3 linked regions of the Homo sapiens genome follow. The protein of the gene in region 1 interacts with the protein of each later gene in a pairwise test. Each region holds a gene or a part of one and is shown on either strand. Other genes may lie near its edges.

Evidence for each region.
Region 2: the proteins of SAP30BP (region 1) and THOC1 interact in a two-hybrid assay, tested with the Homo sapiens proteins (one large-scale study listed by BioGRID and IntAct).
Region 3: the proteins of SAP30BP (region 1) and DHX8 interact in a two-hybrid assay, tested with the Homo sapiens proteins (one large-scale study listed by BioGRID and IntAct).

Annotation. Positions count from the first base shown.
Region 1 is NC_000017.11:75,705,237-75,708,611, reverse strand, and holds the end of SAP30BP (SAP30-binding protein), read right to left. Parts: intron 3,002-3,375; coding exon of another isoform or gene 2,921-3,001; intron 2,605-2,920; coding exon 2,520-2,604; intron 2,273-2,519; coding exon 2,091-2,272; 3' UTR 553-2,090; downstream 1-552. UniProt on the Homo sapiens protein: Plays a role in transcriptional repression by promoting histone deacetylase activity, leading to deacetylation of histone H3.
Region 2 is NC_000018.10:247,439-251,091, forward strand, and holds part of THOC1 (THO complex subunit 1), read right to left. Parts: intron 520-3,653; coding exon 411-519; intron 1-410. UniProt on the Homo sapiens protein: Component of the THO subcomplex of the TREX complex which is thought to couple mRNA transcription, processing and nuclear export, and which specifically associates with spliced mRNA and not with unspliced pre-mRNA.
Region 3 is NC_000017.11:43,500,881-43,504,533, reverse strand, and holds part of DHX8 (ATP-dependent RNA helicase DHX8), read right to left. Parts: intron 1-3,653.

The sequences.
Region 1 (3,375 bases):
AGATCAGAGCCCTCGGGAGAGGTAGCAGGTGTGTGGGTGGGGGACAGTAGGAGCCGTGGACAGAGTTCAGTTTGGACACTGTTCTCTGGCGAGCAGACACACACTGGTTAGAAACAACTTTGGCCCCTAGTGCCTGGGCCATCCACCCACAACAGGAACTGTTCACACACCTCTGGGCCATCCTTGATGTGACTAAGGTGGGCAAGCACCATTTTATAGAAGAGTAAATGAAAGTCTAGAAGGATTAAAAACCTTGACCCAACTCACGAGGCTGGTAAGTGGGGCAGCAGTTTTGGCCTGGGGTTGCCCAACTTCTAAGCCTATGTTCATTCTCCAGGCCCCCTACCTCTGCGGCCCCGCAGGAGACAGTCATTACTGCTTTAACTGGACAGATGAATGGCAGCGCCAGGGCTGCCCAGAGGAAAGCGGGGAGGGGAAAGACCTGCCAAACCCTACCCCGCCGACAGAGCACGAGACGGGGGACAGGCCAGGAGTTTGCTTCTCTCCTTGGTCTACAACAAAAAAAAATTGGATTTAGCCAACAAAAAACACTGGCAGGAACTTTACAGTTTATAAAGCTTTTGCATAAGTCACCTCTGGTTCTTCCCAACCATCTTACGACGCTTTATTACTGTGATTTCAGAGAAGAAACAGGCTTACAGAGGTTAAGGGCTTGAGACCACTCAACTGGTTTTAAGTGGAATCCAGACCAGAGGTGCCGGCTCCACGTCTACTGCCCTTTCCACGGTGCCATGCTGCCTCCCACAAAACATCCACAGTGCCCTTGGCCAATGAGGGGCCGCCATCGGAGGTCACAGGAAGCCTTTTCACAGTCCCTCTGGGGCATGAGTGGGGAGCAGCTCTTCTCCCCAGAGCTTTAAAGCCCCATCGAGGAAGGGGTGAGAACTGACCTCCTGAAGTGCCCGAGTGTGTGTGTACGGGGAGAGTGGACTCAATTTTTATTTTTGAAACCTCATGCACAGAGTTCCTTATATTCCCCAGGTCCCACAAGAGTACCAGGTGCCATTTCAGAACCACCTTTCTAAACCTCTGCCCACCCACTGAAAGCAACACGGCCCTTCACAGCCTGGCTTCCTTCTTTTGACACACAGCCCTTCCGCTCCAGTGGAGAATCGCCAAAGATCATGAAGGGTAAATAGTCTCCTCTGAACCCCTGGTCTGGGAAACCCGTTTCAACCCCGGGGGGAGCCCAGTGGCCACTGGTGCTGCCCAGGGGCTGCTGTGGGGCAGAGATAACACACAGAGGAAGGGTGGGGTGGCAGGAGCCCTCCCAGGAGCAGGGCTTGCCTGTAAACAATGAGCTGCCGCCTCGCCAAGGCAGGAGGTGATTCATCTCCCCCGCTGCTCAGCTCCTGCTGGCTGCGCTCACCGGGCACCAAAGGACTGGGGCAGCCCTGGCCAGGCGCTGACGCCTCCCCACTCTCTGCACAGGTCAGGATCTCACCCCAGCCCTTCTGGAAACTGGCTTGACTTCAAAAGCCTTCCTGGGTGTGTCCAAAAAGTGATCTGGTCTGGGGAGTGCTCAAGTGCACTCAAGGGAGCACAGCTCCACCATCACCCGAGAACTGGCTGGGTTTTGGGATCAAGGCGGCAGATGGGGCATACGTGGGGCTCGGGGACTCCCGCCTGTCCATGCCCAGAGGCATACACGGATAACAACGGTGACTTCTTGGGTCACCCCTCTGAACAGCGTCCCAGGCCTCCATCACCCTGTTGTCAACCCTGAGGCAATAGTCCCAACCAAGACTATTGAGTCTTGGGGGACATGTGAGCTGAAGCATTTGCCTGCAAACAGAATGCAGGAGAGGCCAGTGCATCTGAGATGCCAAGAGGTAAGAATACGGCACTTTTAATAGGCGGCAGACCCCAGGTGGTGCGTGGACAGACCCTGTCCACAGCGCCTGGCTCCCGTGCTGCCTGTCCTTCCATCTGGAATGCCAAACAGAAGCTCCTCTCAGGTGGCATCTGGGGAGTAGGTCCCAGTCCTGAAATATACAAAGTGGCGCCTCCCACTGGGCAGTGGTCACTGGGCTGCACGGTCCTTTCAAGTCCTAGGGTGGCCCCTCAGGTCACTGCTTGGCCTTCTTCACAATGGTGCCCACAGCAGAGATGACGGTGGTCTTGGAGCCGCTGGCGCTGGTGGTGACCGTGACAACAGCTGGCAGGGTGGCTGTGGTGGTGAGGATGGTGGGCTGGGCTATCGTTGTCACTGGGATAGCCGAATCCCACTTGCTCTTTCTCTTCTGAGCATCTGGAGATAAAGCAGAAATCAGGATCACGATCCACCAATGAGCGGTGCCCTCTTTCCCTTCCCCCTGCAGGCCAGCGGGAGTCTAGGGAGCAGACCCCGAAGTGGCCCACCCCAGACTCCAAAGGTGCTTCTCAAAGTAGCAAGGCTGAGCCCAGGCCCAGATCCACGTGCTGTCTGTCGCCCAAACAAGCCAGGGAGACCCTGGCTCCATGTGTGTGGCAGGAGGCAGGGCAGCTCTGCAATCTACCTGCAACAGCTGTGCTGGCAGTGGTAGTGGTGGTGGACGTGGCGTTGGTCGTGGTGCCTTTTTTGGTGCCCGTCACAAACTCAATCTGGAGAGGGAGAGGGAAGAGAATAAGACCAGGCAAAGCTGGGTGTCCACAGCTTTTTGCCATCCGTCAGCTCCTGGGGGACAGGAGCTTGGCACTACACAAAAGAGGCATTGGAAATGAACTCTGCTCTGCCCATCTGGGGTAGGGCGAGATGTCTAAGAAGAACCCAAAGGGGCTTTTCACTCTTAAAAGAACTTTCCAAACAGTACTGTATCCCTCCCGGCATCACCAGGTCTCTGCACATGCCCGGCACCCCCCGCCCACCGCCCCACCTCACATGCCCAGAACCGTTTGGCCAGGCCCCTCCTCCTCACACCCAGGAGGAGGCGGTGCCCGCCCGCACAGGGGAAGGACAGCTCCGGTCCCCAGGCGCTGCAGACACGTCCCTGCAACAAGCCTGGGGTTTGGAAGGGAGAGGGAAAGAGAGAGAAGGGAGATTCAATCAAGGGTTAAGAATGAGAAACCCCAACTATCCCCTTGCACCAGCTCCCACGTTCCTGGCCCAGCAGCCAGCACCTCCAGAGGGCCACCAGCATGCCCAGGCCCCACAGCCCCTCTGCTTGGGGTGAGGGAAGCGGTCTGGAGGCCGCAGCTGCTTGAGGATGGTCAGGCCGAGCCAGAAGTGGGAGGAGCTGGTGTCCTGATGCCCGGCTCTGAGACTGGTCACAAAGGGAACAAGGCCCAGAGATAACAGTTTGGTCTCCCAGCCAAACTGATGCTCCCTGAAGAACCCAGACCACACTGCCAGGGAACAAGTGGTGCTCAGGGCCC
Region 2 (3,653 bases), on another chromosome or scaffold:
AGGTAAGTGGATGGTCATGGTACTATTCCAATAAACCTTTGTTTATAAGCAGTAGGTTAGATCTGGCCCAGAGCCATGACTTGAGGACTTCTGTTTCAACAAGATAGCTAAAATAATTTTGTACAAAGATAGAATATATTCTGCAAAATATCAATTTATGTTAACAACACTCATTATATTCAAAAAAAGCAAGGCTGTAATGACGAACTTTTAAATATCCGATTCTTATATACTACTTCACAATATTAGTGGTTTAAATATTAATTTATAATTTCACTTGTTATGAAATTGGTATAAAAATGTAAGAGGCAGAATTACATAGTGAAAAGTATGTTAGACAAGATTAAGTTTTAGCTCTATCACTGTCTATAAAATACTGGGCTTCTGATAGTCTGTCAATGGCAACTTACCTTGAGAAAAGTTTTCCATGAAATCTTCTCATAGCATTGCACAGGGTTCCTGAAGTAATCCTGAAGTGACCAGAATTTTCGATACAGGTTGTAATCAATTGGAATAGAGCTAATAAAATAAACGTTATATTAAATAAATCATTCAAATTCTTTTACAAATATCTAAATATTCTTAACTTAGCTTTGGTCACAAACCGTTTTCAGAAGCTAATGAAAGTTATCAGAAAAGTACACATTCACAAATGCTTATATAAACTTTTACAAATCATTTTAGGGAACTCATAGACCCCAATAGACTCTTTATCTACACTGGTGGAGCCCCTGAATTTTGGAAGGACACATGGTTATTCAGAATTAAAGATTATGTTTCCCAACCAATCTTGCTGCTCGCATGGTCATGTGATTAAATTCTGGCCAATCAGTTGAGAGCGGAAGTCATATGTGCAACTTTTGGGCCATATTTTATCACTGGCCTTTTCCTCTTCCTGCTGGCTAGAATGCAGATGTGAGCGTGAGCCACCTTGCACTACAGGAAAAAGGGCAAACACCAAGATGATGGAAGAAGAAGGTAGAAGAAGCCTGGGTCTAGGCAATCTCACCGAGCAGTGCTCCCTTACCAGCCTTGGACTGCCTGCTTCTAGACTTCGATATGAGGGGGAAAAATCAACTTTTATGTTGTTTAAACCAATGTTAATCTGAATCTATGTTAAAAGTCACAGGTATCATATCCTAACTAAAAATATTATATCCTAAGAAGCACCAGTATGAGAAAAACATATATGGTACATATCAAGTTAGCATCACAAAAATAAGCCCTTTATCTAGTAACTTTATTATGGCACTACTAATTCAACTTCTAATCTTGATATGTCACAAATCTACAGTGTCAATACATATTCTTTTAATTTAAATTTTTTTTTTTAAAGGAGTCTCACTCTGTTGCCCAGACTGGAGGGCAGTGGTGCGATCTCAGCTCACTGCAAGCTCCGCCTCCCGGGTTCAAGCGATTCTCCTGCCTCAGCCTCCTGAGTAGCTGGGACTACAGGCACCCGCCACCATGCCCGGCTAATTTTTTGTATTTTTAGTAGAGACAGCATTTCACCGTGTTATCCAGGATGGTCTCGAGTTCCTGACTTCATGATCTGCCCACCTCAGCCTCCCAAAGTGCTGGGATTACAGGCGTGTACCACTGCACCCGGCCTATTCTTTTAATTTTTAAAACAGCTAATATCTGATAAACGGCTAGTATCTGAAGCACGTGAAAATCAACAGTGAAGAATACTGACTTTTAACTAACAAAAATCTAAATCTAGTTCTTGCCAAAGCTTTCATCATGAATTAGTAGTATCTGAAAGACTCTAATGGGCATGTTTACTTTCGCTCTTCCTAAACTTTTCCCTAGTAACAACTCTGAAAGTAGGAAAACAATGATGTACACATTAACTTCTCTCTATAATTAAAGCAGCTTCACTGATTTACAACAGTAAGATTATACCTCTGGGTTTTCTATGAATTGGGTTTTTAAAAAAAGCCACAGGCTGGGCACGGTGGCTCACACCTGTAATCCCAACACTTTGGGAGGCTGAGGCGGGCGGATCACGAGGTCAGTTCAAGACCAGCCTGACCAACATACTGAAACCCCATCTCTACTAAAAGTACAAAAATTACCCAGGCATTGTGGTGCGTGCTTGTAGTCCCAGCTACTCAGGAGGCTGAGGCAGGAGAATCGCTTGAGCCCAGGAGGCAGAGCTTGCAGTGAGCCGAGATCACAGCACTGCACTCCAGCCTGGGTGACAGAGCGAGACTCCGTCTCAAAAAAGAAAAAAAAAAAAGCCGCAAAAAGAACATTCCCTAAAACGTTAAAGTAAATAGAGAAAAGAAATAGCACTATATAAATTATTTACATTCATGAAAGAACAAGAACCAATATTTGTATAGTTCCATACATTTGATAAAGAATGTTTCTGAAGTGCATGTGCACACACACACTGAGTAACAAAATGTTACTCAGTTACAACATGTAAGATTGAATATAATAAATACCTCTTGAAATGTACCAGGAAAGTTTGTCTCTTAAAAATGGGGCTACCTCTAACAGAGAATGAGACTCATGCAACCATTATATGTCCCTTTTTGTCTCAATTGCTAAGAACTTCACATCTAATTTAACACTTAATACCAATCACAATATTATTCCATGTTGCTAATTACCATCTCCTACCTGTAAAAGACTTTTGATCTCTTCCCTTTTATCTTTAATTGGCTTGGTGGGTATTTGAGGTGTCTTACAGAATAAATTTTGAAGTAGTGTTAATATCTTACTGTTAGGCAGTTTTTACAGTTGAGGCATTAATATATTTTTAAAAATTTAAAGTCCCCTCTCCTAGATGCTGTCCCTTGCTCTTTTCCTTCACAGCTGAATAAAATTCTTCAAAGAGTTGTCTATACTCCATGTCACCACTTCATTACCTTCCTGTTCATTCTTCAACCCACTTGCAATTTGCCTTCCACCTTCAACACTCCACAGAAACTTTTGAATTTTCTGTTTACCCACACAAAGCAAATGTAACCAATTATTGTATTTGCAAATAATAACAAATCAGAGACCCAGTTACTATGTAAAATAGAATGTCTTGTAACTATTTTAACCAAAAAAACTCTGGAAAACTTGATATATTTTTTTAAATGTTCAGCTATTTTACAGGATGTTATACATTGAAATTTCTTAACAAAAATGTTTACTGGTGTATTTGAGCCAAATCTGAAATGGACTTCATATTGTAGGTAGATGGGTAATGAGTTCTGCTTTGTAAATTACAGTGCCTAAGACCATCTGGTGATAACAGCTGTCACAAAGTAATTCCTCACGTATTTTCTCCCTCTATTCAACATTAGTGACTGTGACAGAGGCAGCTGAGTGTTGAGTCTTATTTAAGTGATTTACAAACATAACCAATAGGGATGAATTGTCTATACAGTCTTAGGCAAAATCTAAGCAGACAAAACTGCACTGGCCAGTGTCTTTTGGGCTGTTTACACTTCAGGTGACTCATCATCTTGTAGCCTACTAACTTGCCCCAGAGCCCTTATGTTGCTCAGGCCAGACCTTAAAGCCTACTTTATTCATGTATAATGAATAAATAGGTCTCTAAAAAAAAATAATAACGATAACAAATAATAGCTACTAGACACTGAATAGACAATATTCTAAGTGCTTTACACTTACCACTACATATAAACAAT
Region 3 (3,653 bases), about 32 Mb from region 1:
ACCCGTGATCAAAAGTACTCAAAGAAACAAATTAATGTGAAGAAAAGAATATAGAAGGGGCAGCAGGGAATGGGAAAGAGACTGTAACAAGTGGTGCTACACACCTGTGATGTCAGAAAAAAGGTTAGTTGAGAGAAGTGAAGACCTGACTGCTTGACACTGGAATTATTTTTTTTTAGGTAGGGTCTTGCTCTGTCATCCAAGTGGGAGTGCAGTGGTGCAATCCTGACTCACTGCAGCCCCGACCTTCTGGGCTCAAGCGAGAAGAGGTCACTCTATGTTGCCAGGCTGGTCTCGAACTCCTGGGCTAAAGCAATCCACCCATCTCACCCTCCCAAAGTAATGGAATTACAGGTATGGCCACCATGCGCAGCACTCTCCCCTTTTTAAATAACTGCTATATCGAGATGTAATTCACAAACCATGTTACACTTTTTTTATTTTATTTTATTTTTTTGAGACAGGGTCTTGCTCTGTTTCCCAGGCTGGAGTGCAGTGACGCAATCACGGCTCACTGCAGCCTCAAATTCCTGGGTTCAAGGAATCCTCTCTCCTTGGCCTCCCAAAGTGCTGGGATTACAGGTATGAGCCACCAAGCCAGGTCTCCGTGTTACTCTTTTTAAGTGTTTAACTCAGTGTTTTACTGTATATTCATTAAGTTGTGCAACTATCCCCACTATTTAGAGTATTTTCATCATATCAGAAAGAAACCCTGTACCCATTAGCAGTTACTCCCCATTCCTCCCTTTTCCTTTCCCTTGGCAACCATTAGTCTACTTTCTATGTCTACGGGTTCTATTCTGGATACTTCATACAATATGTGGTCTGTTGTGCCTGGTTTCTCTCAGATTAATTTTTTTCTTTTTCTGAGACAGGGTCTGGCTCAGACGCCCAGCAGGCTGGAGTGCAGTGGCGAGATCTCAGCTCAGCAACCTCCACCTCCTGGGCTCAAGCAATCCTCCCACGTTAGCCTCCTGAGTAGCTGGGAATACAGGTGCACGTGATTACACACGGCTAAACTTTTTTTTTTTTTTTTTAGATGGAGTTTCGCAATTGTTGTCCAGGCTGGAGTGCAATGGCGTGATCTCGGCTCACTGCAACCTCCGCCTCCCAGGTTCAAGTGATTCTCTTGCCTCAGCCTCCCTAGCAGCTGGGATTACAGGTGCGTGCCACCACATCTGTTAATTTTTCTGTTTTTAGCACAGATGGGGTTTCACTATGTTGGCTAGGCTGGTCTCAAACTCCTGACCTCAGGTGATCCACCCGCCTCAGCCTCCCAAACTGCTGGGATTACAGGCATGAGCCACCATGCCTGGACTAATTTTTGTATTTTTTTAGAGACAGGGTTTCACCACATTGCCCAGCTTGGTTTCAAATTCCCCAACTCAAGTGATCTGTCTGCCTCAGCCTCCCAAAGTGCTGGGATTACAGGTGTGAGCCACCTTGCCCAGACCTAGCTTATATTTTCAAGATTCACCTTGGAATTGTGGCTTGAGGAGCAAAAAAAAATGAGCAGAATTTTAGTGGCTCTCTAGCATATGCAAACATTTTACAAATTTGATGCCAAAAGCTGGCTACGAAAAAATACTTATGCCTACTAACCAAATAAGTGAGCTTAGGCAGAGGCCAAAGGAGGGTCATGGAGAACATTTCACTAAAGGGTAAAAGGGAATGAATGGGTTTATTCTGAGGAAATGGAAGATGATATTGTTAAACAATGAACGAATATGTCCAACCTTCTACTGTAAATCTAATATTTTGGTTTTTATTTTTGTCGTTTTTAAAAATTTAATTTTAAAATAGAGACAAGGGCTAGGCACGGTGGCTCACCAGTAATCCCAGCACTTTGGGAGGCCAAGGTGGGCAAGATCATTTGAGGTCAGAAGTTCGAGACCAGCCTGACCAACATGGTGAAACGCTGTCTCTACCAAAAATGCAAAATAATTACTCGTGCGTGGTGGCGGTCACCTGTAGTCCCAGCTACTTGAGGCTGAGGCAGGAGAATCGCTTGAACCCAGGAGGCAGAGGTTGCAGTGAGCCAAGACTGCACCACTGCACTCCAGCTGGGGCAACATAGTGAGACTCCATCTCAAAAACTAAACTAAACTAAACTAAAATAACAAAACAAAACAAAATAAAATAAAATACAGATAAGGTCTTACTATGTTGCCCAGACTGGTCTTGAACTCCTGGCCTCAAGCAATTCTCCTGCCTCGGCCTCCCAAAGTGTTGGGATTACAGGCGTGAGCCATCATGCCGAACCTAATCTAATATTTGAATCTCTATTACATGCAGCCAAACTGATATCTAAATTAACACAATTCCCAAACTTCTGTCTCCAGCCCAGACCTCTCTTCTGAGCTCTTATACTCAATTCTACACTGGATACCTCAACCTAAGATGTCCTCTAGTTGCCTCGGACACAAGTCCAAAACGGAATTTGACCATCTTTCCCCACAAACCCATTTCTCCTCCAGTGTTCCCATCATTCATCCTAGTGCTCATACCAGAAACCTGGAAGTCATCTTTGACCATTCCTGTTGCCCCACATTCAACAAATTACTTTTCTCAAGTACATCCCTCCTCTTTGCTACCTCCATGTTCAAGCCACCATTCTCTCTCTTCATAAAAGCTTTCTAAATCATCACATGTGCCCCATCCAACTCATTCTGCAGGGCACCCTCAATCATCCTTTGGAAATGCAACTCTGGTCATGCCATGTGCCAGCTGCAAACTTTCAACATCTGGCTGGGCACGGTGGCTCACACTTGTAATCCCGGCACTTTGGGAGGCTGAGATGGGGGGGGGATCACCTGAGGTCGCGAGTTCGAGACCAGCCTGACCAACATGGAGGAACCTCGTCTCTACTAAAAATACAAAAAATTAGCTAGGCGTGGTGGTGCATGCCTGTAATCCCAGCTACCTGGGAGTCTGAGGCAGGAGAATCACTTGAACCAGGGAGGTGGAGGTTGCAGTGAGTCAAGATCATGGTGTTGCACTCCAGCCTAGGCAACAAGAGCAAAACTCTGTCTCAGAAACAAAAACAACAACAACAAAAGAACTTTTCAACATCTCCCAGTGCTATTAGAATTGAGCCCAGCTTCCTAATGCCACCTACAAAGCCCTGGCCTGATGTTCTTATCTCATCCCCTACCACTGCCCACTGCTCTCTCTATTCCATCCACACAAGCCTTCTTTCAGTTCCTTCTTTCCCACCCCACAAACCCAACACGGGCTACTCCTCAGGCTGGAACATACTCCCCAACCTCCATCCCATCTCCACTTGACAGACTGAGTCCAATTTATCCTTTGGGTCTCGATTTCCCCAGGGAAGTGACCCACCACAGTCAATTACACTGCCTGTACTTCTTCACATGGCACTGATCATAATTTAATTATTTGGTGATTATTTAATTAATATCCATATCCCCGACTAAGTTGTAGCGCATAAAAGCAGGGATCATATCTGTTTAATTCAAATCGTATCCCCAGTTGCCAAACACAAATTAAATTAATAAGTATTTGTTATGACTATATCTAGTAGCTAATATTTACTGCACAAAGAATTATATGAAAAAGGAAGCTTCAAAGCTGTATTACCTTTAGAATAAAAATTTTTTTTTTGAGACGGAGTCTCACTCTGTAGCCAGGCT